4 separate regions of the Homo sapiens genome follow, and all the other regions are linked to region 3. Evidence: fine-mapped expression QTL. A gene starts in region 3. Each other region holds a variant in brackets. All regions are shown on one strand. Distances are between the middles of the regions. Region 1 holds the start of SLC25A18 (solute carrier family 25 member 18). Region 2 overlaps ATP6V1E1 (ATPase H+ transporting V1 subunit E1). Region 3 holds the start of ATP6V1E1 (ATPase H+ transporting V1 subunit E1). Region 4 overlaps SLC25A18 (solute carrier family 25 member 18).

Region 1 (7,906 bases), 69 kb before region 3:
AGCCTCACGCACTTTCCCCTTGGGACAGTAGTGTTTGGGTGAATGTTACTGCATCCCGTTTTTTTTCTTTTCTTTTTTTTTTTTTTTTTTTTGAGACGAAATCTTGCTCTTGTCCCCCAGACTGGAGTGCAATGGCACGATCTCGGCTCACTGCAACCTCCACCTCCCAGGTTCAAGGGATTCGTCTGCCTCGGCCTCCCAAGTAGCTGGGACTACAAGCGCGCACCACCACTCCCAGCTAATTTTTGTATTTTTAGTAGAGGCGGGGTTTCACCATGTTGGCCAGGCTGGTCTCAAACTCCTGACCTCAGGTGATCCACCCGCCTTGGCCTCCCAACATGCTGGGATTACAGGCGTGAGCCAACACACCGGACCTTCATTTTTTAAATTAAGCTGGGACACAAGTTTTGCCTCCAGGCTGGATGTTGATCCTGCTCTGTGCTAGACAGATGTGCGGAGGGACTGTTCCGGGCTCGGCTTGACCTTTTCCTACCTAGTTTCTCCCTCTTGTCCTGCACAAGAGGACTAACTGAACTCTAACGTCAGAACGGCTGACGAGCAGTTGATTGTCCTTGCTTGTGTTGTTGACAGGGGTGGGTGGGGTGGGAGCAGGGGTATGGATATTGCATAAGTTATTGAAATGCTGACCCCCGTTCAGGAAACCATGCAGCCCCTTCCCTTCCCTTCCCTTCCCTTCCTTTCCCTTCCCTAGCCAGGGCTCAGGTACCTCACTCTCCTGCCTTGTGCGTAGCTCCTGGGGCCCCGGTCAGTCCCCAGCAGCCTTGGCACACAGTGTCTGGAGCCTCTGCTCCTGCTGCAAAAGCAGAAACCATGTGAACCTTCTGGCCAGTACTGGAAAGGGGAATGCTATTTATTTTTATATTGTGTATATTTTGTCGTGGTCTGCTGATTCCCTGTTTCACTGAGAGCGACACTTACCTCAATAGTTAGTTCAATATTGTGTGTTGGATAATTTTTTAAAAGAACTTTTTAAAAAGCTTTTTGATCCTTGGAGGTCTGTAGATTTATTTCCATATGAACTGGTTATTTTGTATAAAGTACATGCTTAAAATAGCAAGGCTCCTCTGTGTGTGTGGTGTGTCTGTCCATGTGTCATTTCCATATCAGGGCAAACCCAGACTTCCATCAGGACGAAGGCGTGAACTAGGCCACAAGGCCACCAGCTGAAATGCCACCCCTCGTCCATTCTCATGCATCCAGAATCCACGGAGGCGGGGCACGGGTCCTGTGCATGAGACAGAGGAATATGGTTCCAGAGAACTTCAAAACAGTCATGTACTGACTGGCAGTTCTAAACCATGTCAGGGATAAAACGCTCCTCACAGCCGATCCTTGCGAAGCTGGCCCGGCCGTCAGCATCTCACTGGTAAAGGCGTCCGCCTTCAGAAGGTTACTACACCTGAGGTGCACGACTTCTCTCCTTGCAGGCTTTAGGGTGCCTGGGATGGGAAAGGAGTATAACAGTGGGGCAGCGGGGCAGCTCCAGCCTGGAGCCCGCTGTGCACACACATGGCCAGAAGTGGGAGCTCCAGCCTAAGCAAGCGGGCAATCTTATACCTGCCAAGGTCATTTATGTTTTATTTCCAGTTACTGGGAGAACAGTTTGAAAGTAGCTTCATTCAGCCAGGCGCGGTGGTTCACGTCTGTAATCCCAGCACTTTGGGAGGCTGAGGCGGGCGGATCACGAGGTCAGGAGATCGAGACCATCCTGGCTAACACGGTGAAACCCCGTCTCTACTAAAAATACAAAAAATTAGCCGCGCGTGGCGGCACACACCTGTAGCCCCAGCTACTCGGGAGGCTGAGGCGGGAGAATGGCGTGAACCCGGGAGGCGGAGCTTGCAGTGAGCCGAGATCGCACCACTGCATTCCAGCCTGGGTGACAGAGTGAGACTGTGTCCCAAAAAAAGAAAGTAGCTACATTCTTAGAAATCAGCTACAGTCTTAAGACACCAGAACTCCTGTTTTGTCCTTAAATGCAGACTGTCCCAGTTTAATGATCATTCAACTTAGGAGTTTTTGAAAATGAGACACATTCTGCAGAAACTGTACTTGAAGTCCTCGTGCAACAATTCTCTTTCACCTTCTGTACGGTATTCAATAAACTCCATGACATATTCAACACTGTGTGATAAAGGAGGCTCAGCCAGGTGTGCTGGCTCACACCTGTAATCCCAGCACTCTGGGAGGCCAAGGCAAGTAGATCATATGAGCTCAGGAGTTCGAGACCAGCCTGGCCAACATGGCAAAAGCCTGCCTCTACTAAAAACACAAAAATTAGCGGGGCGTGGTGGCGGGTGCCTGTAATCCTGGCTACTTGGGAGGCTGAGGCAGGACAATCGCTGGAAGCTGGGATGCGGAGGTTGCAGTGAGCCAAGATCGCGCCACTGCATTCCAGCCTGAGCGACAGGAAGACTCCGTCTCAAAAATAAAAATAAAAAAGGAGGCTCAACTGTGGGCTAGCATAAGTTTGCTGAGCATGCTTGAGGCAGGCTAAGCTGTGATATTTGGTGGGTTAGGTGGATTCAGTGCATTTCCAGCTGACAATATTTTCAACTCATGATGGGTTTATCCGGAGGTGACCCCACTGGAAGCTGAGGAGCATCTGTAATTGGCTGTGGAAGTAATCCTCATTCCATAAAAATTTCACCACAATTAGTACCCGTTTCCAAACCCATGCTTGGGGCTGTCCCTTTCTAGGCAGTGATCTGTTCACTCTCCTTTTAACCTCCAGTTGTTTGGTGTCTGATTGTCCCCACTGATACTCTGTTGTTACTGGCTAACAAATTTTTGAGCCTTTTATCCTGGTATTATTTTAAAACTGTTCAGTTATTCTCCCATGAAAAGTGTTTCTATGATAAAACATTTTATGCCAACCGTACTTTCTTGTTTAGTAGTTGCATTTCAGTGTAATTTCTGAAACAAAACAAAAATCAACTTTAAAGTGAAAAATCAGGCTGGGCACGGTGGCTCACTTGATGTCAGGAGTTTGAGATCAGCCTGGCCAGCATGGTGAAACCGTCTCTACCAAAAATACAAAAATTAGCCGGGCATGGTGGCACACGCTTGTGATCTCAGCTACTTAGGAAGCTGAAGCAGGAGAATTGCTTAAACCCTGCAGGCAGAGGTTGCAGTGAGCAGAGATCGCACCACTGCACTCCAGCCTGGGCAAGAGTGTGAGATCCTGTCTTAAAAAATCACTAGTAAACCCCAGATCAGACATGATGCTACTCAAATTGTGCATCTCGATGGATTCTCCCAGTGGGTGGGGGGAGCACCACTCTGGCCTGGCTTCCTTCACTGTTCTGTCAGCTTTCCTAGAGCCCAGTCCAGCTGCATCAGTGGCTGGGATGGCGTTAGCAAACCCACTCCCTGTGCATATCAGCAGCACACCCTTAAAATGCATGCAAACTTTGATTCCTAACTTTCAGATTTCCTCCTACCGTGACATGAATTCTCACCAAACAAAGGCCAGAATGTTTTTTGACATATTTAGCTATTGATAGGCTTTAGCTCTCCCTCTCCCTCTCCCTCTCCCTCTCCTCACGGTCTCCCTCTCTTTCCACGGTCTCCCTCTCATGCGGAGCCGAAGCTGGACTGTACTGCTGCCATCTCGGCTCACTGCAACCTCCCTGCCTGATTCTCCTGCCTCAGCCTGCCGAGTGCCTGCGATTGCAGGCACGCGCCGCCACGCCTGACTGGTTTTGGTGGAGACGGGGTTTCGCTGTGTTGGCCGGGCTGGTCTCCAGCTCCTAACCGCGAGTGATCC[G/A]CCAGCCTCGGCCTCCCGAAGTGCCGGGATTGCAGACGGAGTCTCGTTCACTCAGTGCTCAATGGTGCCCAGGCTGGAGTGCAGTGGCGTGATCTCGGCTCGCTACAACCTCCACCTCCCAGCCGCTTGCCTTGGCCTCCCAAAGTGCTGAGATTGCAGCCTCTGCCCGGCTGCCACCCCGTCTGGGAAGTGAGGAGCGTCTCTGCCTGGCCGCCCATCGTCTGGGATGTGAGGAGCCCCTCTGCCTGGCTGCCCAGTCTGGAAAGTGAGGAGCGTCTCCGCCCGGCCGCCATCCCATCTAGGAAGTGAGGAGCGTCTCTGCCCGGCCGCCCATCGTCTGAGATGTGGGGAGCGCCTCTGCCCCGCCGCCCCGTCTGGGATGTGAGGAGCGCCTCTGCCCGGCCGCGACCCCGTCTGGGAGGTGAGGAGCGTCTCTGCCCAGCCGGCCCGTCTGAGAAGTGAGGAGACCCTCTGCCTGGCAACCACCCCGTCTGAGAAGTGAGGAGCCCCTCCGCCCGGCAGCCACCCCGTCCGGGAGGGAGGTGGGGGGTCAGCCCCCCGCCCGGCCAGCCACCCCGTCCGGGAGGTGAGGGGCGCCTCTGCCCGGCCGCCCCTACTGGGAAGTGAGGAGCCCCTCTGCCCGGCCACCACCCCGTCTGGGAGGTGTGCCCAACAGCTCATTGAGAACGGGCCATGATGACAGTGGCAGTTTTGTGGAATAGAAAGGCGGGAAAGGTGGGGAAAAGATTGAGAAATCGGATGGTTGCCGTGTCTGTGTAGAAAGAAGTAGACATGGGAGACTTTTCATTTTGTTCTGCACTAAGAAAAATTCTTCTGCCTTGGGATCCTGTTGATCGGTGACCTTACCCCCAACCCTGTGCTCTCTGAAACATGTGCTGTGTCCACTCAGGGTTAAATGGATTAAGGGCGGTGCAAGATGTGCTTTGTTAAACAGACGCTTGAAGGCAGCATGCTCGTTAAGTGTCATCACCACTCCCTAATCTCAAGTACCCAGGGACACAAACACTGCGGAAGGCCGCAGGGTCCTCTGCCTAGGAAAACCAGAGACCTTTGTTCACTTGTTTATCTGCTGACCTTCCCTCCACTATTGTCCCATGACCCTGCCAAATCCCCCTCTGTGAGAAACACCCAAGAATTATCAATAAAAAAATAAATTAAAAAAAAAAAAAGAATAACAAGAAACATCTATTCTCTGTTTTCCATACCCTAAGCTTGGTTCTAAGCACCTTATGTTCATTGACTTATTAAATTCTCACAACATGAAAAAAAAAAAAAAAGATAGGCTTTAATTTTTCTTGAGACAGGGTTTCACTCTGTTGCCCAGGCTAGGTACAGTGGCATGGTCTCAGCTCACTGCAGCCTCAATCTCCCGGGCTCAAGCAGTCCTCTCACCACAGCCTCCCAAGCAGCTGGGACTACAGGGGCACCCCACCACACCCAGCTAATTTTTTGTCTCACGATGTTGCCCAGGCTGGTCTAGAACTGAGCTCAAGTGATCTGTCTGCCTCAGCCTCCCGAAGTGCTAGGAATTACAGGCGTGAGCCACTGTGCCCGGCCTTTATTTTTTATAAGGAACTTAGCCATTTAGAGTGCTTCCAGATTTATCTTCTTCGGGCCAAAACCAGCAACAAATATATGTACCAAAAGTTAGCATCTTCCACTGGTTAACTGTTTCAAAACAGTGCAGTAGGCAGTGTAAATGTGGCTCTATTTTTGGAACTGTTACTGTTTAACGCTTGTTAAGCATCCTGGGTAAATATATCTTACACAGATAATCCTACACAGTGAGCTTCTTAAAATAAGAGCATAAAAGCTACTCGGGCAAGATTTAGGGAGACAGGAAGCTATACATTGTTACTGTAGATTAGTCTCAAAAGTTCTGATCAACTTTCTATTTTGACATTTGGAGACATCCATAGGTGCTTCTCTTGTTAAAGATTAATGTCTCTTGTCTCTAAACCAATTCGTGTTACTGGAAGGAAAGGCAACGCAAGTTTTATAAATCAGCCCCTTTGTGGGCTCCATTTTGCTATACTCTATGTTCTCTGAGAGTGCTACCAACGGAATTGAGAAAATAACCATCCAGACGGGCTATTTGGGGGCTGATCTTTACCCTGGAATCTTCCTGGAAGGTGAACGGCCTATGTCATGCAGTTGTTATGCAAGAGGTATCATGGGACCTTTCCTTCTGGGCGCTCATGGAGCCGCGGCAGAGCCCTGGGTGACCCAGCAGCAGCTGCCTGCTGTGTGGCTGCCTTCACTGTCCTCCCCCACAACTGCTGTTGATTTCTCTGCATTGACCCTGCAGATGTTTCCCTGGCCTCGTGGTGTTCCTTTGGACTTTTAAGGGACCTCTGTGCATCTATTTTAGTCCCCTTTCTGCTAGCAATGCTCACTCCCCTAGTTTCCTTAAGCAGTTTTATAAAAAACCTTCAGTGAAAAATACTAGCCAAGAAGGCGAAGGCATCTGGAAAATCCCCAGATTTGGCTATTGTGTGCTGCAATGCCAGCCCCCTTCTACAGCCATGACATGCATATCAATGCAGGTGCCCTTGAGACTCCTGCAGGTTCGAGAAAGCATGACATGCTCCCAGAATCCTGGATTTGGACTTCATTCTGGACAGCATATGACAAGGACGAGGACCCCTATTCTAGCCAGTTAAAGCTGGACAGAATTTTTAAAAGCAATGAAGCCAGTTCCTTGGATATATCCACGGGCTTTGCTTTGAGAAGGAACTGAGTAGGCAGTGAGAAGAGTCGAGTGAAGCCTGGCCCGTGAGTGCCTCAACAACTGAGATGAACGTCGACTCGCTTGCAGGCAAGTTGTCAGTAAGTATTTATTAAATACCCACCGTGAGCCTTGTACTTTGCCTAGTTACTAAGAAACCAAAAGGGGGAAAAATAGCCTCATCTGCTCAGAGTTCATAATAAACCTGTATTGTGAATACAGAATACAGAAAAACTGGACTCTAGTGAGGTGCTAGAAAGAGTGTACTGCTTAGCTGAGATAGCAGATGAAGGAAAAATATTTTTGGTTCCTCCCTGCCATGCAATCGTACCGGGAGGGTGGAGTGTTGGTGTTCTCAGCCCATTTAATTTGGATGGAGCTGCGGGCTCATCAGTTTGGGGACTGGCTTCATCGCTTGTTCTGTCCAGCAGTCGCGTCTTCTCGGACTCCTTGTTCCAGCTTGAATTCCTCTTTTGCCCTGGCTCCACTCTAAGACGAAGACTGTGTAATTCAGAAAATGCAGCGCAAGTAATTATGTCCAGTGTGATGCTAAACATTTCCCAAAGGCAGCGTAGATCTGCAGAAACTGCAGCTTGGGAGAAGTGATGGTGTTCCTCTCCCCACCACCTCAGCCTGCCCTGATCATTCTCACTCACATGATCTATTGTGATGTTCTCACAATGTAGCCTGGCCATCATCTGGGAACTTGCTGGAAATGCAGATTTTGGCATCCCGCCTAAGACCTTAAACTGAAGAAGGGCCTAGCTCTCTCTTGTAACTAGCAACAGATGCAACCTGCATGGTTCTGATGCAAACTGACCTGGAAGAATGGCCCTGGCATTTACATTTTGGTCCTTAGATGCAGGTAATCTGAGCTGAACATCTTCAAACCTGAGGCATAGCATAGAAAAAAGAATACAAACAGTTTATATAAAGTAAAAAAAATTTTTAGAAAGGACTTAAGTTGGCTGGGGCGCGGTGGCTCACACCTGTAATCCCAGCACTTTGGGAGGCCAAGGCGGGCGGATCACGAGGTCAAGAGATGGAGACCATCCTGGCTAACGTGAAACCCCATCTATACTAAAAATACAAAAAATTAGCCAGGCGTGGTAGCAGGTGTGGTAGTCCCAGCTACTCGGGAGGCTGAGGCAGGAAACTCACTTGAACCTGGGAGATGGACGTTGTAGTGAGCCAAGATTGAGCCAGTGCACTCCAGCCTGGGGGACAGAGCAAGACTCTGTCTCCAAAAAAAAAAAATCAGGCCCAGGCAACATAATGAGGCCCCACCTCTACAAAAAAATAATTGTTTTAATTAGCCAGGTTGATGGTGTGCACCTGTGATCCCAGCTACTCAGGAGGGTGAGGTG
Region 2 (5,000 bases), 31 kb before region 3:
CAACAACAAAAAAAGAGGCTGGGTGCGGTGGCTCACGCCTGTAATCCCAGCTCTTTGAGAGGCCGAGGTGGGCAGATCACGACATCAGGAGATTGAGACAATCCTGGCTAACAAGGTGAAACCCCGTCTCTACTAAAAATACAAAAAAAATTAGCGAGGCATGGTGGCGGGTGCCTGTAGTCCCAGCTAATCGGGAGGCTAAGGCAGGAGAATGGTGTGAACCTGGGAGGTGGAGCTTGCAGTGAGCCGAGGTCGTGCCACTGCACTCCAGCCTGGGTGAGAGTGAGACTCTGTCTCAAAAAATAAATAAATAAATAAATAAGATAAAAAATGCTATGAGGTTAGTGCTAATACGTCAATTTACAGATAAGGGAATCAGGGCTCACTACTATGGTTTGAGTCTGTTCCCTCAGAAACTAATGGTGAAATTTGATTCTCAATGTGGCAGTGTTGGGAGGTGGAGCATAGTAGGAGGTGTTCAGGGCTCAAGGGCAGATCCCGAGGCAATGAACTGTGGCGAGGGCCTGGATTCTAGCTCCGGCAGGACTCGACTGTGAGCAGAGGGTGGGCTGGTATGATAGGGAGTCTGGTTCCCTAGGCTCTCTGGCCTCCTCTCTCGCCATGTGGTCTCTATGCACACACCCACTCCCCTTCCACCTTCTGCCATGAGTGGAAGCAGCCTGAGGCCCTCACCAGATGCAGCTGTCCAATCTTGAACTTTCCAGCCATGAGAATCATGAACCAAATAAACCTCTTTTCTCCATGAATTACCCAGCCTCGGGTATTCTGTTATAGCAACACTAAATGGACGACACCACTCAATGAAACTGAATAAACGAGTCCAAGATTACCCAGGTAGTAAGTGGCAGAATCAGGAATCTAACCCAACTCTGACAGCATATCTTATGAGTTTATATACTTTTTCCATTTACAGAGCATTTTCACATGTACTATCTCATCTTTTTTTCTTCACTGCATGAAACAAAAAAGCAAAAAGCAATGATCCTATTTTACATATGATGAATTCAGTCTCCAGGTCCCATAGTAGCAAAAGGCCAAGATAGGACTCAAATCTAGGTCTTACATTCCTAAGTGTGATAATCAGCTAACTTCAAAATGTGTCCAAGGCACCAGGCATGGTGGCTCACGCCTGTAATCCCAGCACTTTGGGAGGCCGAGCGGGCAGATCACGAGGTCAGGAGATCGAGACCATCCTGGCTAACACAGTGAAACCCCATCTCTACTAAAAATACAAAAAAATTAGCTGGGCGTGGTGGCAGGCGCCTGTAGTCCCAGCTACTCAGGAGGCTAAGGCAGGAAAATCGCTTGAACCTGGGAGGCAGAGGTTGCAGTGAGCCAAGATCATGCCACTGTACTCCAGCCTGGGTGACAGAGTGAGACTGCCTGTCTTAAAAAAAAAAAAAAAGTGTCCAAGGTACTTTCTTCAATGTTAGTCAGTAGTGTGGCTAGGTGGCCTCAGACAGGCCAGTGAAATCGAGAAAATGACACTGGCTCTCCCCTTGTCAGGAGTTTCTACTGCCTACCCCAGCTACACAAAGCTTGTTAGGAACACTGATCCCAGAAATGTTCTGTCATTTCCTCACAGTCATAAAAATACCACTCATACTTGCAATTCTATCTCTAAGGAACCTAACTACCAGGCATACACAATTCTTGTTTTGATAACTATTACTTAGAAGAAGGGAGTATCTACCTCAGCATCCAATACAGAGATCTGGTCCTAGCTTTCATTCTGGGGGCCACCTCCCCGCAGAAGGAAAGCAGTGACCATAAACCAGACTTTTTTTTTTCTGAGATGCAGTCTTGCTCTGTCGCCATACTGGAGTCCAGTGAGTGGCGTGTTCTTGGCTCGCTACAACCTCCACCTCCTGGATTCAAGCAATTCTCCTGCCTCAGCCTCCTGGGTAGCTGGGACTACAGGCGTGCGCCACCACGCTCAGCTAATTTTTGTATTTTTAGTAGAGACAGGACTGGACTATGAGCAGAGGGTGGACTGGTATGATAGGGAGTCTAGCTCCCTAGGCCATGTTGGTAAGGATGGTCTCGATCTCTTGACCTTGTGATCCACCTGCCTCAGCCTCCCAAAGTGTTGGGATTACAGGCGTGAGCCACCGCACCTGGCCAAACTAGACTTTTAGAGTATATTTAGCCAGCCAACAAGGGAGAGCAAGAGAGCACTGCGAGAACAACAGGAACGGCTGCAAGTAGAATACACCACAGCTCTAGCCTTGTGTCTAAGAGTGCGTTTAAATGGTGAAAATACCATTTAAAAAAGGCCTGGTATAAAGGCCACTCTCCCAGGGAGAGAAGGTAGCTGTTAGCAGCAGGAATACTCCTTACAT[G/A]TCTTCAGGCAGGTAGGACTCCTGGTCAATTTGGACATCAACATCGTTTTTGGTGGCAATTTTGTACATAGGAATTGCCTTCTGCACTGCAGCCTGGAAGTATAGAACACAATGAGAGGTGTCACTAGGAACTATGAAGCAAGTATCCAAAAACTCAACAGACTATACAAGCAAGGATACCTCCATTTATCCCAGGTAAAAGAACAGAGGCACCGCTGGTGGGAATGTAAAACGGCACGGCCACTGAGGAGAAATGACAGTCTGCACACAGGAGGGAAGAGATGCGAATGGTTTCTGTCAAGATTTAACAGGGCTTGGCAGGTGATTAAACACACCAGAGGCAGTTATTACATTTGAAACATGGATCAGCAGGAGGAAGATACATTATTCCCCCAGCTGAGAGTGTTAGAAGCTGGGGGTAGGTAAGGAGAGAAGGGAGGGAAGAGAAGTTTGGCTGCTGGCATGAGCTTCAACTGGCAGTTGCAGATGAGGGGGAGACAGCAGGCACCAGAAACAGCAGTGCCATGCCATACCCATAAGGATGGTTCTTATCAAAGTAACAGTATAATAGGTCCTCAAAAAATGAAGTACACAATTACCACATGATCCAGCAATTCTACTTCTGGGTATACAGACAAACGGATAGAAAGCAGGACAGATATCCGTATACCCATGTTTGCAGCAGCATTATTCACAACAGCCAAAAGGTGGGAGTAACCCAAGTGTCCAGTGACAGATGAACGGATAAACACAACGTGGGGCATCCATACCGTGGAATATTATTCAGCCTTACAAAGGAAGGCCATTCTGACCCACCCTACAGGGACCTTGAAGGCATTATGCTAAGTGAAATGAAACAGTCACAAAAAGACAAATACTGAATGTTTCCACTTATATGAGGTGAATGGGGGAGAAGAGAAGAGAAGAGAAATAATGGAGAGTTAGTGTTTAATGAGCACAAAGTTTCAGTACGGGAAAATGGAAAAGTTCTGAAGATGGATGGTGGTGATGGCTGCACAATATTGTAAATGTACTTAATGGCACAATGTATGGTTAAAATGGTATGTGTATTTTACCACCATTAAAAAAAAAAAAGAAAGGCAGGGCACGGTGGCTCGCACCTGTAATCCCAACACTTTGGGAGGCTGAGACAGGCAGGTCACAAGGTCAGGAGTTTGAGACCAGCCTGGCCAACACGGTGAAACCCTGTCTCTACTAAAGATACAAAAAATTAGCCAGGCATGGTGGTGCATGCCTGTAATCCCAGCTACTTGGGAGGCTGAGGCAGGAGAATTGCTTGAACCCGGGGGGGCAGAGGTTGCAGTGAGCCGAGATCGCACCATTGCACTCCAGCCTGGGAAATGAGAGCGAAACTCCATCTCAAAAAAAAAAAAAAAAAGGAAACTAGATCCCTGGAATAAAAGATAGAAGTGGGTTTTTACGGCCAGGCGCGGTGGCTCATGCCTGTAATCCCAGCACTTTGGGAGGACGAGGCGGGTGGATCACCTGAGGTCAGGAGTTCGAGACCAGCCTGGCCAACATGGTGAAACCCTCCCTCTACTAAAAATACAAAAATTAGTCAGGCATGGTGGCACACGCTTGTAATTCCAGCTAGTCTACTCGGGAGGCTGAGGCAGGAGAATCGCTTGAACCCGGCAGGCAGAGGTTACAGGTGAGTGGAGATCCCGCCATTGCACTCCATCCTGGACAACAGAGTGAGACTCCACCAAAAAAAAAAGAAAAGGAAGGAAGGAAGGAAAAGAAAGAGAGAGGGGAAGGAAGAAAGGGAGGGGGGAGGGAGGGAGGGAAAAAATTATCCTAAGTTCTTTACCTTTACCAGAGGGAAATCTTGTTTCCTGCAACGAACAATCATTCGGGGCTCCAGCAACTGGTACAAACCCTGGAAGAAATAGTAGATACAGTCAGTAGAAAATGCAAACTATAAAATAAAGAAACAGGTCGGGCACAGTGGCTCAGGTCTGTAATCCTAACACTTTGGAAGGCCAAGGCGGGCGGATTGCCTGAGCTCAGAAGTTCGAGACCAGCCTAGGCAACAAGGCAAAACCCCATCTCTACTAAAAATACAAAAAATTAGCCTGGAATGATGGTATGTGCCTATAATCCCAGATTACTCAGGAGGCTGAGGCAAGAGAATGGCTTGAACCCAGGAGACGGAGGTTGAAGTAAACAGAGATGATGTCAATGCACTCCTGCCTGGCTGACAGAGTGAGACTCTGTCTCCAAAAATAAAAATAAAATAAAATAAAGCAACAGTAAAATAAGATGCTTCTACAGTTCTTTCATTTAGGTTGGAAAAATTTCCCCTGGTAAGTTCCACTAACAGATGGCATATATCACATAAGACCATGGAAAGATCTATCTATCCCAAACCAGATAAATGAACCCAAACCTTTGGTGATAGAAACAAAATTCATGCAGACATCTTATATTACATCAACCAAGCTGAGGACAAATATTATTGTAATTAACATAAGTAAAATAAGGATTCACAGCTCAGCAGTAAACAATTAAAACATATACAGTGTTTGGTCTGAATCCTAAATCTAAAGCAAGTATTTTAGTGGCAAAATCAAATTAAGGGAATTTAAAGCTAGCCATTGCAAGCAAATTTGACCC
Region 3 (7,351 bases):
CAAAAGGGGTCCTGGCCAGGCGCGGTAGCTCATGCCTGTAATCCCAGCACTTTGGGAGGCCGAGGTGGGCAGATTACGAGGTCAGGAGATCAAGACCATCCTGGCTAATACAGTGAAACCCCATCTCTAATAAAAAATAGAAAAAATTAGCCAGGCGTGGTGGCGGGCGCCTGTAAGTCCCAGCTTCTCGGGAGGCTGGGGCAGGAGAATGGCATGAACCCAGGAGGTGGAGCTTGCAGTGAGCGGAGACCATGCCACTGCACTCCAGCCTGGGCAACAGAGCGAGACTTCGTCTCAAAAAAAAAAAAAAAAAAAAAGAAAGAAAAGAAAAAGCGGTCTTCCATTTGACACAATTTTGTTTATTTATTTAATATTTTTAGAGACAGGGTCTTTTGCTCTCTCACCCAGGATGGAGCACAGTGGCATGATCATAGCTCACTGCAGCCTCGACCCCTTGGGCTCAAATGATTCTCCCACATCAGCCTCCCTAAGTAGCTAGGAGCACATGTGTGCCCCACCACACCTGGCAATTTTTTTTTTTTTTTGAGACAGTCTCGCTCTGTTGCCCAGGCAGCAATGGTGTGATCTCGCCTCACCATAACCTCCACCTCCCGGGTTCAAGAAATTCTCCTGCCTCAGCCTCCTAGTAGTTGGGATTACAGGCATATGCCAGCACGCCCCACTAATTTTGTATTTTTAGTAGAGACAGGGTTTTGCCACGTTGGCCAGGCTGGTCTGGAACTCCTGACCGCAGGTGATATGCCCACCTCGGCCTTCCAAAGTGCTGGGATTACAGGCATGAGCAACCATGCCCAGACAGCCTGGCTTATTTTTTAAGAAAAAATTTTTTAGAGATAAGGTCTATGTTGCCCAGGCTGGTCTTGAACTCCTGGGATCAAGCGATCCTCCCACCTCAGCCTCCCAAAGTGCTGGGGGCTACAGGTGTGAGCCACCACACCTGGCGTGTATTTGTGTTTATTAATATTAAAATTTTTTGAGATGGAGTCTCACTCTGTCACCCAGGCTGGAGTGCAGTGGCACAATCTTGGCTCACTGCAACCTCCGCCTGCCGGGTTCAAGCGATTCTCCTGCCTCTGCCTCCTGAGTAGCTGGGACTACAGGCGCACCCCACTAGGCCCAGACAATCTTTTTTTTTTTATTTTTTTGAGAGGGAGTCTCGCTCTGCCGCCCAGGGTCGCTCGGCCTCCCGGGTTCACGCCATTCTCCTGCCTCAGCCTCCCGAGTAGCTGGGACTACAGGCGCCCGCCACCATGCCCGGCTAATTTTTTGTATTTTTAATAGAGATGGGGTTTCACCATGCTGGCCAGGCTCGTCTCGAACTCCTGACCTCAGGTGATCCGCCCTCCTCAGCCTCCCAAAGTGCTGGTATTACAGACGTGAGCCACCATGCCCGGCCCCAGCCTGTATCTCACAAATGTTAACACACACATTAGTGGGAGACCAATCATTACAATCCATTATGATAGAGGGGACTTCCCCAAAATGAAGATTAACAGTACATACAGGCCTGGCGCGTTGGCTCATGCCTGTAATCCCAGCACTTTGGGAGGCCCAGGTGGGAAGATCACCTGAGGTCAGGAGTTCAAGACCAGCCAGGCCAATATGGTGAGACCCTGCCTCTACTAAAAAAAATACAAAAATTAGCCGGGCTTGGGGCGCGAGTCTGTAATCCCAGCTTCTAGGGAGGCTGAGGCAGGAGAATCACTTGAACCCGGGGCGGAGGTTGCAGTGAGCCGAGATCGCGCCCTTGCACTCCAGCCTGGGCGACAGAGTGAGACTCCGTCTCAAAAAAAAAAAAAAGAAAAAAAGAAAAAAACACAGTTCATAAAGTGAACGACCTTGTCAAAACACTGGTTGGAAGCAGGTCTCTTCCCTCCGCACTGTTTCCTATCATATAGCCTTAAGCATTTCCCTCAGGGTTAAAAAAAAAAAAAGTGACAAGGCTGGTTTGTTTTTTTTTTTTCTTTTTCCAGAGGGAGTCTCGCCCTGTCGCCCATGCTGGAGTGCAAAGGCGCGATCTCGGCTAACTGCAACCTCCGCCTCCGGGTTCAGCTTCCCGAGTAGCTGGGATTACAGGCGCGCGCCACCACGTCCGGCTAATTTTCTATTTTTAGTAGAGACCGGGGTTTCACCATTTTGGCCAGGCTAGTCTCGGACTCCTGACCTCAGGTGATCCGGCCGCCTCGGCCTCCCAAAATACTGGGATTACAGGCGTGAGCCACTGCCCCTGGCCACAAGGCTGTTTTCAATCCTTGCACAGATCTCTGTCCGACTAGGCACAGTGAATACCCTTGGAAAACAGGGAATGCTGAGGTGGGAGGCAAAGAGCCAGGGCGTTCAAGAAGGCAGCGCGCAGGCAAGCGGGCAGTGCCCAAGACCCGAGCAAAAGTCACATGAGCTGCGGGGCAAATCTCCGTCCTCAGGCCGACCTCTTGGATCTGGTGACTTGGAGCAAGGGACCTTCCTGCGGCATCTGGGCGGCTCAAGGCCCGCGGCCTTCCCTAGGCGGGCTCCAGCCCACTCCCCGGGACTGCCGCCGCGGCTTCGTAAGACCCAACCAAGCCCCTCACCTGCTTTTGCACGTCAGCATCGCTGAGAGCCATGGCGAGAGCAATGCTAGGCCGGTGAACAGTAGGCTCGAGTTTAGGTTTGAAAGGTGAGGTGAGAGAAATCGGCAAAGGGAACCCCTGCGCAGATCTCGGGTTCCTTTACTTTATAACCGCGGGTTCCGGTTCCTGCCAGGTGACTGCACAGTTCATCCTCATGACCCTTCTCAGCCAATGGGAAGAGAGCGACGCCCAGGAAGTCCCGCCCTGTCCCGGCCTGTGGGCGCGTCCTCGGGTCCTTCTACGTCGCTGACTCGTGACCTGACCGGTATTTTTTTCCTAAACTGGGATCTTGGGTAGGAGGAAGAAAAGATAAGGAGTTCCTCTATCTGAAATTAGTCGGGCTGTTTTGAGGAGTACTGGTTAGGTATATTGGAGAATGTGCCTTTATTGGAATTTTTCGCATAATTACACAGGGTTATGGGCTTAGGGGTACATGATTGTTGGCCGGGCGTGGTGGCTCACGCCTGCAATCCGGAGACTTTGGGAGACCAAGGCGGGTGTATCGCTTGACCTCAAGTTCGAGACCAGGCTGGACAACATAGAGGAACCCCGTCTCTACCAAAAGAAAAAAAAAAGGGGGATACATGATTTCTGACTATTCATGTCAACCTTGATTACCTGAATAAAGTGTAGGGTTTGTAGGTTTCTCCACTCTGAAGTTACCTTTTTTAACCCCCTTTCCATACTGTAGTCTTAGGAAGGAAGCCACTATACAAAGCCCACACCTAGGGAGTGGGAAGCTATGCTCAACTTCCTTATTAGGGTGGAGCAGCTACATAATTTATTTGGAACTTTTCTGAGATAGCCTATATATTTTTCAAAAGCCTTCCCAGGTCCCATTTAGAGGAATATTAGGACAGAAATCCCCCCAGGCTCATTTGTTTTTATTTGGATTTACCTCAAGCCCGTTTTTTTCCCCAAAATCCCAAAGGCAAAAACTTTTGAAAATTCCTTTATCTTTAGGATAGACTGACTCCTAATAGTAGAATAAGAGGTCAAATGGTACACCCACTTTTTTCTTTTTACTGTGCTATGGTTACCCACCATTTTTATTAGCTTTTTATCTTGAAGAAATTTGAGATATAGTAACTTGTAAGAATACTGCATTGACCTCCCTTCACCTAGATTCAACAATTGTTAACATTTTGCTACATGTACATTAACACTTTATTTTCATACACACACACACACACACACACACACACACTTCCTATTTTAGTGTGTCATAAGAACGAGGATGTAGCAAATTCAGGAAATTTAGTTTACTAGGCTGAACATTAATTTCCTTTGTCCCGGGCCAGGCGCGGTGTCTCACGCCTGTAATCCCACCACTTTGGGAGGCTGAGGTGGGCAGATCACCTGAGGTCGGGATTTCGAGACCAGCCTGACCAACATGGAGAAACCCCAGTCTCTACTAAAAATACAAAATTAACAGGCGTGGTGGTGTGTGCCTGTAATCCCAGCCACTGGAGAGGCTGAGGCAGGAGAATTGCTTCAACCCAGGAGCAGAGGTTGCGGTGAGCCAAGATCGTGCCACTGCACTCCAGCCTGGGCAATAAGAGTGAGACTCCGTCTCAAAAAAACAAAAAAAAAAAAAACAAATTCCTTTGTCCCATCAATCCATCAATGTACTTTATAACCCTTTCTTTTTTTTTTGAGACAGAGTCTCACTCTGTCGCCCAGGCTGCAGTGCAACGGCATGGTGTCAGCTCACTACAACCTCTGCCTCCCGGGATCAAGTGATTCTCCTCCCTCAGCCTCCCAAGCAGCTGGGATTACAGGTGCCTGCCACCATGCATGGCTAATTTTTGTATTTTTAGTAGAGATGAGGTTTCACTGTGTTGGCCAGGCTGGTCTTGAACTGCTGACCTCGTGATCCACCTGCCTCGGCCTCCGAGAGTGCTGGGATTACAGGTGTGAGCCACTGCACCCGGCCTTCTTTTTCTTTTCTTTTTTTTTTTTTTTTTGAGATGGAGTCTCGCTCTGTTGCCCAGGCTAGAGTGCAGTGGCAGAATCTCGGCTCACCACAACCTCCGCCTCCCGGGTTCAATTGATTCTCCTGCCTCAGCCTCCCCAGTAGCTGAGATTACAGGCATCTGCCACCACGCCCAGCTAATTTTTGCATTTTTAGTAGAGATGGGGTTTCAACACATTGGCCAGGGTGGTCTTGAACTCCCGACCTCAGGTGATCTGCCTGCCTCCACCTCCCAAAGTGCTGGGATTACAGACGTGAGCCACCGCGCCCAGCCATAACCTTTTTTTAATAACCTTACTTTTTAACCTTTTATAACCTTCTTATAACCTTACTTTATAACCTTTATAACCTGGATTGGATCCAGGGTCACTTACTGCATTAGTGATCATGTCTTTTTAGTCTCCTTTAATATGGAAGAGTTTCCTCAGACTTATCTTTCTTGATAGTGACATTTTGAAGAATATAGGCCAGTTGTAGAAAATCACTCAATTTTTTTTTTTTTTGAGACAGAAGAGTGTCGCTCATGCTGGAGTGCAGTGGTGCAAACTCGGCTCACTGCAACCTCCACCTCCTGGGTTCAAGAGATTTTCCTGCCTCAGCCTCTCCAGTAGCTGGGATTACAAGCGCCCGCCACCACGCCCCGCTAATTTTTTCTTTTTGGTAGAAACAGGGTTTTGCCACATTGGCCAGGCTGTTCTTGGAACTCCTGAGCTCAGATGATCTGCCTGCCTTGGCATCCCAAAGTGCTGGGATGACAGGTGTGAGCCACCACGCCCAGCCTCAATTGGGTTTTGACAGTTTCCTCATAATTAGATTCAGGTTACGCATTATAGCAGGAGTACTACATGTGTGATATTGTGTCCTCTTTGCAACACATCAGAAAGTACATGATGTCCGTTTGTCCCTTTTTTTCAATTTTATTTTTAAAATTGAGACAGAGTCCTACAGTGTTTGTCAGGCTAGTCTCGAACTCCTGGGCTCAGGGGATCCTCCCACCTCAGCTCTTTGTCCTTTTAGTAGGAATGGTACGTGTGTGTATGTATGTGTGTGTGTGTATATATATATATATATATATATATATATATATATATTTTTTTTTTTTTTTTTTTTTTTTTTTTTTTTGAGATGGAGTTTCGCTATTGTTGCCCAGGCTGGAGTGCAGTGGCGCAGTCTCAGCTCACTGCAACTTCCACCTCCCGGGTTCAAGTGATTCTTCTGCCTCAGCCTCCTGTGTAGCTGGGACTATAGGCGCGTGCCACCACACTCAGCTAATTTTTGTATTTTTAGTAGAGATGGGGTTTCACCATATTGGCCAGGCTGATCTCGAACTCCTGACCTCGTGATCTGCCCGCCTTGGCATCCCAAAGTCTTGGGATTACAGGCGTGAGCCACGGCGCCTGGCCGGTACACATATTTTGAAGGCTGTTAATACATGCTGCCATTTTTTCCCCATTTGTACTAGTGTACAATGTTCCTTGTACTGTATGACAGATTGGTATACATATTTGGTATACATATTTGAGAATACTGATAATGCTGGATAAAGGAAAGATTTACCCACAGGACAATAAACGTTGCCATTTATTAATATATTTATTAATACATGCTGCCATTTTTTCCATTTGTACTAGTGCACAGTGTTCCTTGTAGGACAGATTGGTGTACATATTGGTATATATATTTGAGAGTACTGATAATGCTGGATAAAGGAAGGATTTAGTCACAGAACAATAACACAGGGCAAGAGAAACTGATGCAATTGACCTTAACTTGATCACTATTGAGCTAAACTAGATTGGATTATTTGTCTAATTTTGTTCATCTTTTGCATTAATAGCCTCATTCTTCATTGTCCTAAAAAACAGATTGCAGGAGTATGGAATATGCTAGAGGACTATTCTACCCTCTAGCATCCCTAGGTCAGGTTGAGGTGGAATTAACACATTTTGATTACAATCTCTCCTGTATTTTTACAGTGTTCTGCAAATGACAGGATTTGGGGAGTAGAAACAGCAGTCTAATTCTACATGTCAAATTGTTTCTGAAATTAATATCTGGAATGGATGTAGCACTGTCTAGATCAACCGTGCTTTTGTTTTTTGGAAAACAGTGTGATAATCTTTATGATTCTTCTTCTTTTTTTTTTTTTTTTTTGGAGATGGGAGTCTTGCTCTGTCACCAGGCTGGAGTGCAGTGGTGCAATCTTGGCTCACTGCAACCTCTGCCTCCCGGGTTCAAGCAATTCTCCTGCCTCAGCCTCCCGAGTAGCTGAGACTACAGGCATGTGCCACCATGCCCAGCTAATTTTTGTATTTTTAGTAGAGACAAGGTTTCACCATGTTGGCCAGGTTGGTCTCGAACTCCTGGCCTCAGGTGATCCACCCGCCTCAGCCTCCCAGAGTGCTAGGATTACAGGCATGAGCCACTGCGCCTGACCACGATTTACTTATTTTTATTTTGAGACATTAGAAAATACAAAAAAGTACAAAGAATAATTTATTCCCATACCATGCACCACTACCCAAAATTAACAATTAACATTTGTCACATTTACTTCAAGACTTCACTTGAAAAACAAATCGTAGGTATAGTTACTATCCCCTTTTGCAGCACCCACTTCTCCCCCATGTTAGTTTCTCTTTAAAACTCAATTTTCTTCAGTTTTGCTGATTCACCAAGGAACAGGCCAGGTCCTGTCTGAAAAGAATGTAAGCTTTACAGAGATAACCTCTGAAGGGAAAAAGTT
Region 4 (7,605 bases), 39 kb before region 3:
GAGGTGTCAGCCTGGCCTCTGAACTGTCCCAGGGGCAGGGATTGAGAGCCACACTCAGGAGTGTTTCGTAGCATCTGTTGGGGACCAGGTACTGATGTCTGTCCTTTCCCTTCCAGCCGTCCATCATCAGGGCTCGGCCTCAGCACCCTCCACCTCCAGGTCCTACACAACTGGTTCGGCTTCCACCCACAGGCGCCCCTCTGCCACCCTCATTGCCTGGGAGCTGCTCCGCACTCAGGGCCTGGCTGGGCTCTACAGGGGCCTGGGTGCCACTCTCCTCAGGTGAGCCTTTCTTCCGGTTCCCTAGGACAAGTGCACGGGGGAGGGCACGAGGGCCAGAGAGCTGGTTGTCCCTATCTGCCTCTGTGTCCTTCCCAGAATATCCAAACCCAGGTGAGCAAACGATTTCCATGCTTCCTGTTTTGTCTGGAACTGGCCAGGGTGGCACAGAATGGGTACCTAGAAGACTAAAGTTTTAGGCCGCTTGCATAGTGATGACCAGGCCCACAGGAAGGCTGGGTGTTTTGTGGCCCAAAGGCACCTAAGAAAGCCCTGTCTACAGAGGACCGCAGAGTTCATAGTAATGAGTGGCCAGGCCCCTCATCTTCCCTTAGCCTGCCTGCCCCTGTACAGAACGCATTTCCCGCCTCGGACTTGCCTCTGGCAGTCAAGAGGCTGCAGGTGCTGCAGGGCAGAGGAAGGAGCTGGGACGGCGGAACAGATGGCAACAGCTCTTTTGTCCCCTGCTGTCCCTCACCCACGCTCACGGGGCACAAAAGAAGGGATGAGTCCCCGTGGCTCCTCTCACTGTAAGCCCCACAGCTCACAGCAAAGCTCATTGTCTCACCTTGGGTGGCAGCCCCAGGGCAGCTCGGAGCTCAGTGTTTCTCCTTCCTCTTCTGCAGAGACATTCCTTTCTCCATCATCTACTTCCCACTGTTTGCCAACCTTAACAACCTGGGGTTCAACGAGCTCGCCGGTAAGGCGTCCTTTGCACATTCCTTCGTGTCAGGCTGTGTGGCAGGTTCCATAGCTGCGGTCGCAGTGACGCCTCTAGATGGTAAGGAGTTGGGAGACGTGTCCTTTCTATGGGATAAACAGTAATTTTGCACTTATAGATAAAACAGCCTGACCCTGGAAGCCATACTGGGTTGCAATCTGGCTGCTGGCGGAGGCTCACTAGAGGCCCTCATGGAGAAAGTGGGTCCCAAGAGACCTTCCTTCTGTTTCTCATCCCTGACACATCCCTCGCCTTCAAGATGCTGATTGCTTTAGCTTTTCATCCCCTCAGAAGAGTTGTGAGCCCCAGCTATAAATTATTGCTGATGTGTTAAAATTTGGGGCTGGCTGGGTGTGGTGGCTCACGCTTGCAATCCCAGCACTTTGGGAGCCCAGCACTTTTGGATCACCTGAGGTCAGGAGTTTCAGACCATCCTGGCCAACATGGTGAAACCCCGTCTCTACTAAAAATGCAAAAAAAATTAGCAGAGTGTGGTGGCGGATGCCTGTAGTCCCAGCTACTTGGGAGGCTGAGGTAGGAGAATCATTTGAACCCAGGAGGTGGAGGTTGCAGTGAGCCAAGACCACACCACTGCACTCCAGCCTGGGCGACAGCACAAGACTTCATCTCAAAAAGTAAATAAATACATAAAATTTGCGGCTAATGGTGGGAGCTAAACCTGGCATGAGAAGACAATGCTTCCCTCCGTGTTAGGGCTGCCTCCAGCTCCCTAAACTTGCGGGTAGACTTCCTATACCAACAGTAACCTGGCCAGGTGCGGCGGCTCACGCCTGTAATCCCGAAACTTTGGGAGACCGAGACAGGAGCCCAGGAATTTGAGACCAGCCTGGGCAACAAAGTGAGACCCTGTCTCTAAAAAAAAAAAATGAAAACATTAGCTGGGTGTGGTGGTGCGTGCCTGTAGTCCCAGCTACTCGGGAGGCTGAGGTGGCAAGATCACTTGAGCCCAGATGGTTGAGGCTGCAGTGAGCTGATTGTGCCACTGCACTCCAGCCTGGGCAACAGAGCGAGACCCTGTCTCAACAAAACCAAACAAAGCCACAGTAACATGACTCATTTATTTTATAGCTGAGGCCCAAAGAAGAAGACCTCCACTTACAGATCACACAATGGCAGAACTGGCCTCATGACCGTTTTTTTTTTTCTTTTTTTGTTTTTGAGATGGAGTCTTGCTCTGTTGCCCAGGCTGGAGTGCAGTGGTACAATCTCGGCTCACTGCAAGCTCCACCTCCCTGGTTCAAGCGATTCTCCTGCCCCAGCCTCATGAGTAGCTGGGACTACAGGAACGCGCCACGCCCGGCTCATTTTTGTATTTTTAGTAGAGATGGGGTTTCACTATGTTGGCCAGGCTGGTCTCAAACTCCTGACCTTGTGATCTGCCCACCTCAGCCTCCCAAAGTGCTGGGATTACAGGCGTGAGCCACTGCGCCCGGCCTATGAGTCAGTTTTATATGTGGTGGCTCTACAGGAGGGCCCAGCCCCTTAGTGTTGAGGGGAGGACACCGAAAGTAAGCTGTTCACTACTTACTTTAACTTTTACTTGATTTAGTTCTGAAAACTCGAATCCAAACCCTCAAGAAAGGCCTGGGCGAGGACATGTACAGTGGGATCACCGACTGTGCCAGGTGAGAGCCAGTGTCCCCTCAAATGGTGGCTGGGACAGGTTCCTCTGCGTGGGTGTCTGCCTAGACCAGATTTAGAGACCAACTTGAATTGCTGGGCTCTGGGTTTCTTTGAAGTCTGTCTTTCCCTCACCTCTCAAAGAAAACAGAATGTACTGGGAGCCTTTTTCTTCTTCCTGGCATCCCTACAGCATCTCTCACCAAAGATTCTAGCCACATCAAGCCTGTTTCCAAGGCCTTGACCCAACTGCATAAGTAACCAACCTGCATGCACCTAGCGGGCGAGGCACAGCTCCCACACCGTTGGCCTCTTGCTCTTGTTGTGGAAGGCACTATTCTAAAATGAGAGGTGCACAAATGGAGAGGCTGCCACTGAGGGCTGCTTGCAGAATGCCCCTGCCCATCAGCTCACTGGCTCTTCTTTCTCCCCAGGAAACTCTGGATTCAGGAGGGACCATCTGCCTTCATGAAAGGCGCTGGCTGCCGGGCACTGGTCATAGCACCTCTCTTTGGGATTGCTCAAGGGGTCTATTTTATTGGGATTGGAGAGCGCATCTTAAAGTGTTTTGACTAGACAGAGCTGGAGGTCAAGTCCCTGCGCTTGCCGCCCTCTCTCTAGCTGTTTCACTTAGCCTAGAGGGGGCAAGGGCAGGTGGGGCCACTCTGGCCTGCCTGGTCCTCTGCGTTGTAGTGCTACCTCAATCTCGGGAGAAACAGCCCTATATTCTAACAAGTTGAGCACAGCCTTCTTCCCCTTCGTGTCTACACTCGTTTTCCTTTGTGGGCACAGCTACCAGGGGCTTTTGGAAGCCCCTAACCACCTACTTTTCAACAAAAATGGTACTTTCGTTGTATTAATTGCAGGACCTTAACAGGTAGTCACAATAGAAGGGTTGTTTCTGTATTTTAACATTTCTATTTCACAGTCAAACTCGGCATTCTTCAGTCAGCTTGAGGATTTAGCATTGTTAATCTTGGACTCCATAACTTATGAGTCCTAGCACTGATTTTGAGGAAAAGGAGGATCAGAAGTTCAAGGGACCGTGAAAGCCCTCAGAGTCAGCACCTAGTTTGAGACCAAGCACCCTTTCGAATCCCTGGATGGCTGAGGGGGCTGAGGCCGGCTCTGACTGGGCAGCTCAGCCCCTCCCCCAGAGCCCAGGGTCTTGCACACCCCTCCCTGTAACCAAGGAACACTCTGAAATAAAGGTGAATGGCTAAAATCTCATCTGTTCATCAGTGGGTACAGCAGATAGGCTGCAGTGAATGCTATCACCATCTACTTTTCTACGTCCATTTCAAAACCAAACATTAAAAAGGGCATAGAAGCAGACCCCCGTCACTCTTCAAACTGTTACTTGTGGGGGTGGAGGAACACAGCCATAGGGAAATATCTGCTTGTTAGTGACACTGGGTTTTAAGCCTTGATTCTATCCCTTCATAAGTGAATCGTCTTGAGGAGCTGAGTTTGCTGTGAGAGCCCTCCTCACGCACCTCGATTCCTCCCCCAAAGGCTGCTACAGGAGAGATAATGTCACAGCAGCAGGGCCAAGTCCTAAGAAAATCAGCACCTGCTGCAGGAGCTGGTGTTTACAATAGTCCCATCTACTGTGAAACCTGGGCTAACAAGGAAGAGGATGGTGCTAACATGGTCAGCCCTGGGGGCCTCACTCTCTGTTATGAGAACTGCATTTGAGTATGGGCCCTGGAGACAGACCTCAGTTCAAGTCCCAGCTCCACCATGTACTAGCTGCAAGGCCCTGGGCAGCTCTTAGTCGTCACCTACGGAAAAATAAAACATGGGACAGGGAAGGAAGAACAGGGCCTCTGTGAAAGGATCTGGTTCCAGCACACAGTGACCTGCTCCAAAATAACTCGGTTTTTTGGGTCTGGCGCCGTGGCTTACGCCTGTAATCCCAGCACTTTGGGAGGCCGAGGCAGGCGGATCCGAGGTCAGGAGATCGAGACCATCCTGGCTAACACGGTGAAACCCCGTCTCTACCAAAAAATACAAAAAATTAGCCAGGCGTGGTGGCGGGCGCCTGTAGTCCCGGCTACTCCGGAAGCTGAGGCAGGAGAATGGCACGAACCCGGGAGGCGGAGCTTGCAGTGAGCCGAGATGGCACCACTGCACCCCAGCCTGGGCAACAGAGCGAGACTCCGTCTCAAAAAAAAAAGAAAAAGAAAAAACAAACAACTTGGTTTTTCTCATTCGGGCAACACTAATAAAACTATTTCCTCAATAAAGTTGTGCACGTCACGCTGAAGAGCCATGTGGGGTGTGTGGAAGATTGCAAGGGTGGAAAGAATGCTCCTGGTGATGGGCTGGGAACAACGGGCAACAGCCCAGGGGACCCCCAGAGGGTTAACGGGTCCAGGTGCTGACAGCTGTCACCATCAAGTGCCACGGGGATTGGGAAAATACTTCTTTTCTAGGTGCCTCAGTAAGAATTTGACTCTGTCAAAACCTAAATTTGTAGTGCCTTACACTAGAAATCACATTAAATCCGCATAACTCTTTTAATAAATAAAGCATATTCATGGCTTAGATTTTAAATCACATTTACAGATGAGGGAAAACTTCTAGGCCTAAACAGGTAACAGTAAAGCGACTACTGCTGGAAGGAGTGGTGTGCCACATGCGCCTTAAGCCTCAAGAGTGGGGACTGCAGGGCCAAACACCAAATACATCACCTTTAGGCCAGACGGAGAGTGGAGACCCAGGAAGCCCATGCAACCACCATCTGCCCCCTCCCCTAGTGCTGCAGAACCGGCTGGACACTGTCACACTTTCAGAAGAACTGGAGGTGGGTCCTGATCATATTACATGAAGC[T/C]TTCCACCATTGTGAACAATTAGGCAAGGCATGAGTGACAGAGGGGCATCGCTGATAAATACAGAGCAATACTGGGGCAGTGAAGAGGAAGCTACAGAGACATTCGTGTTTCTTCAAATATCAGAAGCTTCCACATCACAGCAGGAGAGCTGACGACGAGCTCCACCTCCTGAAGGCTTAGTCCAAAAACTTCCTGTTGGCATTTGCACCAAACAAGGCTCCCCGGACTTCTGGCATCATCTGTGGAGAGAAAGTGTAATAAATACGCAATGTCAGCTGAAGAAGTTGTAGAGCGCTGCACATCTTTTTTTTTTTTTTTTTTTTGAGACGGAGTCTCGCTCTGTCGCCCAGGCTGGAGTGCAGTGGCGCATCTCCGCTCATTGCAAGCTCACGCCATTCTCCTGCCTCAGCCTCCCAAGTAGATGGGACTACAGGTGCTTGCCACCATGCCTGGCTAATTTTTTTGTATTTTTAGTAGAGACGGGGTTTCACCATGTTAGCCGGGATGGTCTCGATCTCCTGACCTCGTGATCCACCCGCCTCGGCCTCCCACAGTGCTGGGATTACAGGCGTGAGCCACCAAGCCTGGCCAGAGTGCTGCACATCTTAACCACAGGTGGAAAGCCATGAACCTCTATGTGGCTGGGAAGGACTCACAAAGCCACGCACATCAAAGCCACCCTCTCCTTCCCTGAAGCAAGTAACACATTCCTTGGTGAGAAACTTAACTCATCCCAAATCTGGGGTTCAGACTGCTTACAAAAGGGACACATTAAAAAAAAACAAAACAAAAAAAAACCTAAAGTCACTACTATCTCAGACTTAACTCATCATAATCATCTCACCACAATATGCTGGGTCACCTACACTCTTTCTTCAACAAACATTTACTGAGTGCCTACTATGGCCACAGCAGCTGCAAAGAACACTTCCAATGCCAGCTTAGGCTGGAAGCACTTGCTACAGCCACTGATGAATCCTTAGGAGAACTTAACCCTGGACTTCCAAGGCTCGGCTGTCCAACAGGGCAGTCCTAGCTACAGATGGTTATTGTGTGCTGAGAAACTGAATTTTTCGGTTTAATTAAATATCCGTAAGTGAGTAGTGGCTATGATACTGGATGGGACAGTGGCTACTAGGAAACAATGTTCTGAGGTTTAAGTTACCAGAATATGAAAAAATCAAGGTGAAAGTGCTTTAGTTATAAGACAAGTATCTGCATAAACAGTAAACTGCATATCTAGGTCAGGGAATAACTAGGTTGGCAGCCACAGCAATAGACTCCCACTAGAAGTCTAGAAGATGCCCAGCATTTTAGAACAAATGGAATTTTCCTGGCTTGTTTCCTAGAGTTCCTGTGTACAAATCTGGAAACATCTGAAAAGCCAGCAGCTTTATGATAATTCCTTTAAATAAGTATTTGTGTCTGAGCACGGTGGCTCACACCTGTAATCCCAGCACTTTGGGAGGCCAAGGCGGGTGGATCACCTGAGGTCAGGAATTTGATAACAGCCTGGCCAACATGGTGAAACCCCGTCTCTACTAAAAATACAAAATTAGCCGGGTGTGGTGGCAGGTGCCTGTAATCCCAGCTACTCGGGAGGCTGAAGCAGGAGAATCGCTTGAACCTGGGAGGTGGAAGTTGCAGTGAGCCAAGACTGCACTCCAGCCTGCGCAAAAAAGAGTGAAACTCCATCTCAAAAAAGCAAAACAAAACAAAAAAACACAAGTATTTGCTTTAGTTCCCATCACTCCTGTTAGAGAAAGAACTTGTCAGCACCTTACATGTAGTAAAATGTACATATTCGAATCCTAGGTCAACAAAACACTTGTTCTGACCCCAAATTCACCCTCATGTAAATGTTACCACCTCAGCAAATGCTACTACATGCCCAATTCTCATTCTTTTTGAGAAAATGTCCAAAACTGGAAAGACAGCAACAAATCCCAAATACCAGTGAATGGACACGTGTTCTCTGTCCCACTTCAAAGTAACAGCAGACCAACTACCAAGAAGTACCCCCACACTCACCTGCTGGGCTATGAGATCCAGCCGGCTTTCCAGGGTGTTGGAAACCTTTATTTTACGATCTCCATTATAGATCTCAACTCCACCAGCTCTGCAAAA

Evidence for each region. PIP is the estimated chance that this variant, and not a neighbour inherited with it, causes the effect.
Region 1: its variant is fine-mapped to the expression of ATP6V1E1 in whole blood (TOPMed, PIP above 0.99).
Region 2: its variant is fine-mapped to the expression of ATP6V1E1 in whole blood (TOPMed, PIP above 0.99).
Region 4: its variant is fine-mapped to the expression of ATP6V1E1 in whole blood (INTERVAL, PIP 0.92).

Annotation. Positions count from the first base shown.
Region 1 is chr22:17,557,074-17,564,979 of GRCh38, forward strand. SLC25A18 (solute carrier family 25 member 18) reads left to right here and starts at 6,425. Exons shown (of 11, transcript NM_031481.3): 1 at 6,425-6,640. LOC105372850 (a long non-coding RNA gene) reads right to left here. Exons shown (of 3, transcript XR_001755420.2): 2 at 7,196-7,430; 3 at 6,624-7,040. CECR2 (CECR2 histone acetyl-lysine reader) reads left to right here. Exons shown (of 19, transcript NM_001290047.2): 19 at 1-1,078. RefSeq lists a silencer at 6,196-6,490. The variant G/A (reference allele first, on the strand shown) is at 3,791.
Region 2 is chr22:17,595,833-17,600,832 of GRCh38, forward strand. It overlaps ATP6V1E1 (ATPase H+ transporting V1 subunit E1), which reads right to left. Exons shown (of 9, transcript NM_001696.4): 6 at 4,195-4,263; 7 at 2,362-2,456. Among named protein-coding and RNA genes, the nearest start is that of ATP6V1E1, 30 kb to the right of the region's middle. The variant G/A (reference allele first, on the strand shown) is at 2,364.
Region 3 is chr22:17,626,012-17,633,362 of GRCh38, forward strand. ATP6V1E1 (ATPase H+ transporting V1 subunit E1) reads right to left here and starts at 2,738. Exons shown (of 9, transcript NM_001696.4): 1 at 2,592-2,738. The coding sequence starts at 2,624. It also overlaps a transcript of BCL2L13 not described here. RefSeq lists enhancers at 2,433-2,582, 2,663-2,752, 2,694-2,863.
Region 4 is chr22:17,587,020-17,594,624 of GRCh38, forward strand. SLC25A18 (solute carrier family 25 member 18) reads left to right here. Exons shown (of 11, transcript NM_031481.3): 8 at 117-282; 9 at 906-1,060; 10 at 2,571-2,646; 11 at 3,076-3,976. The coding sequence ends at 3,217. It overlaps ATP6V1E1 (ATPase H+ transporting V1 subunit E1), which reads right to left. Exons shown (of 9, transcript NM_001696.4): 8 at 7,510-7,597; 9 at 5,117-5,717. The coding sequence ends at 5,655. It overlaps LOC101929372 (a long non-coding RNA gene), which reads right to left and starts at 2,173. Exons shown (of 4, transcript NR_171783.1): 1 at 848-2,173. The variant T/C (reference allele first, on the strand shown) is at 5,478.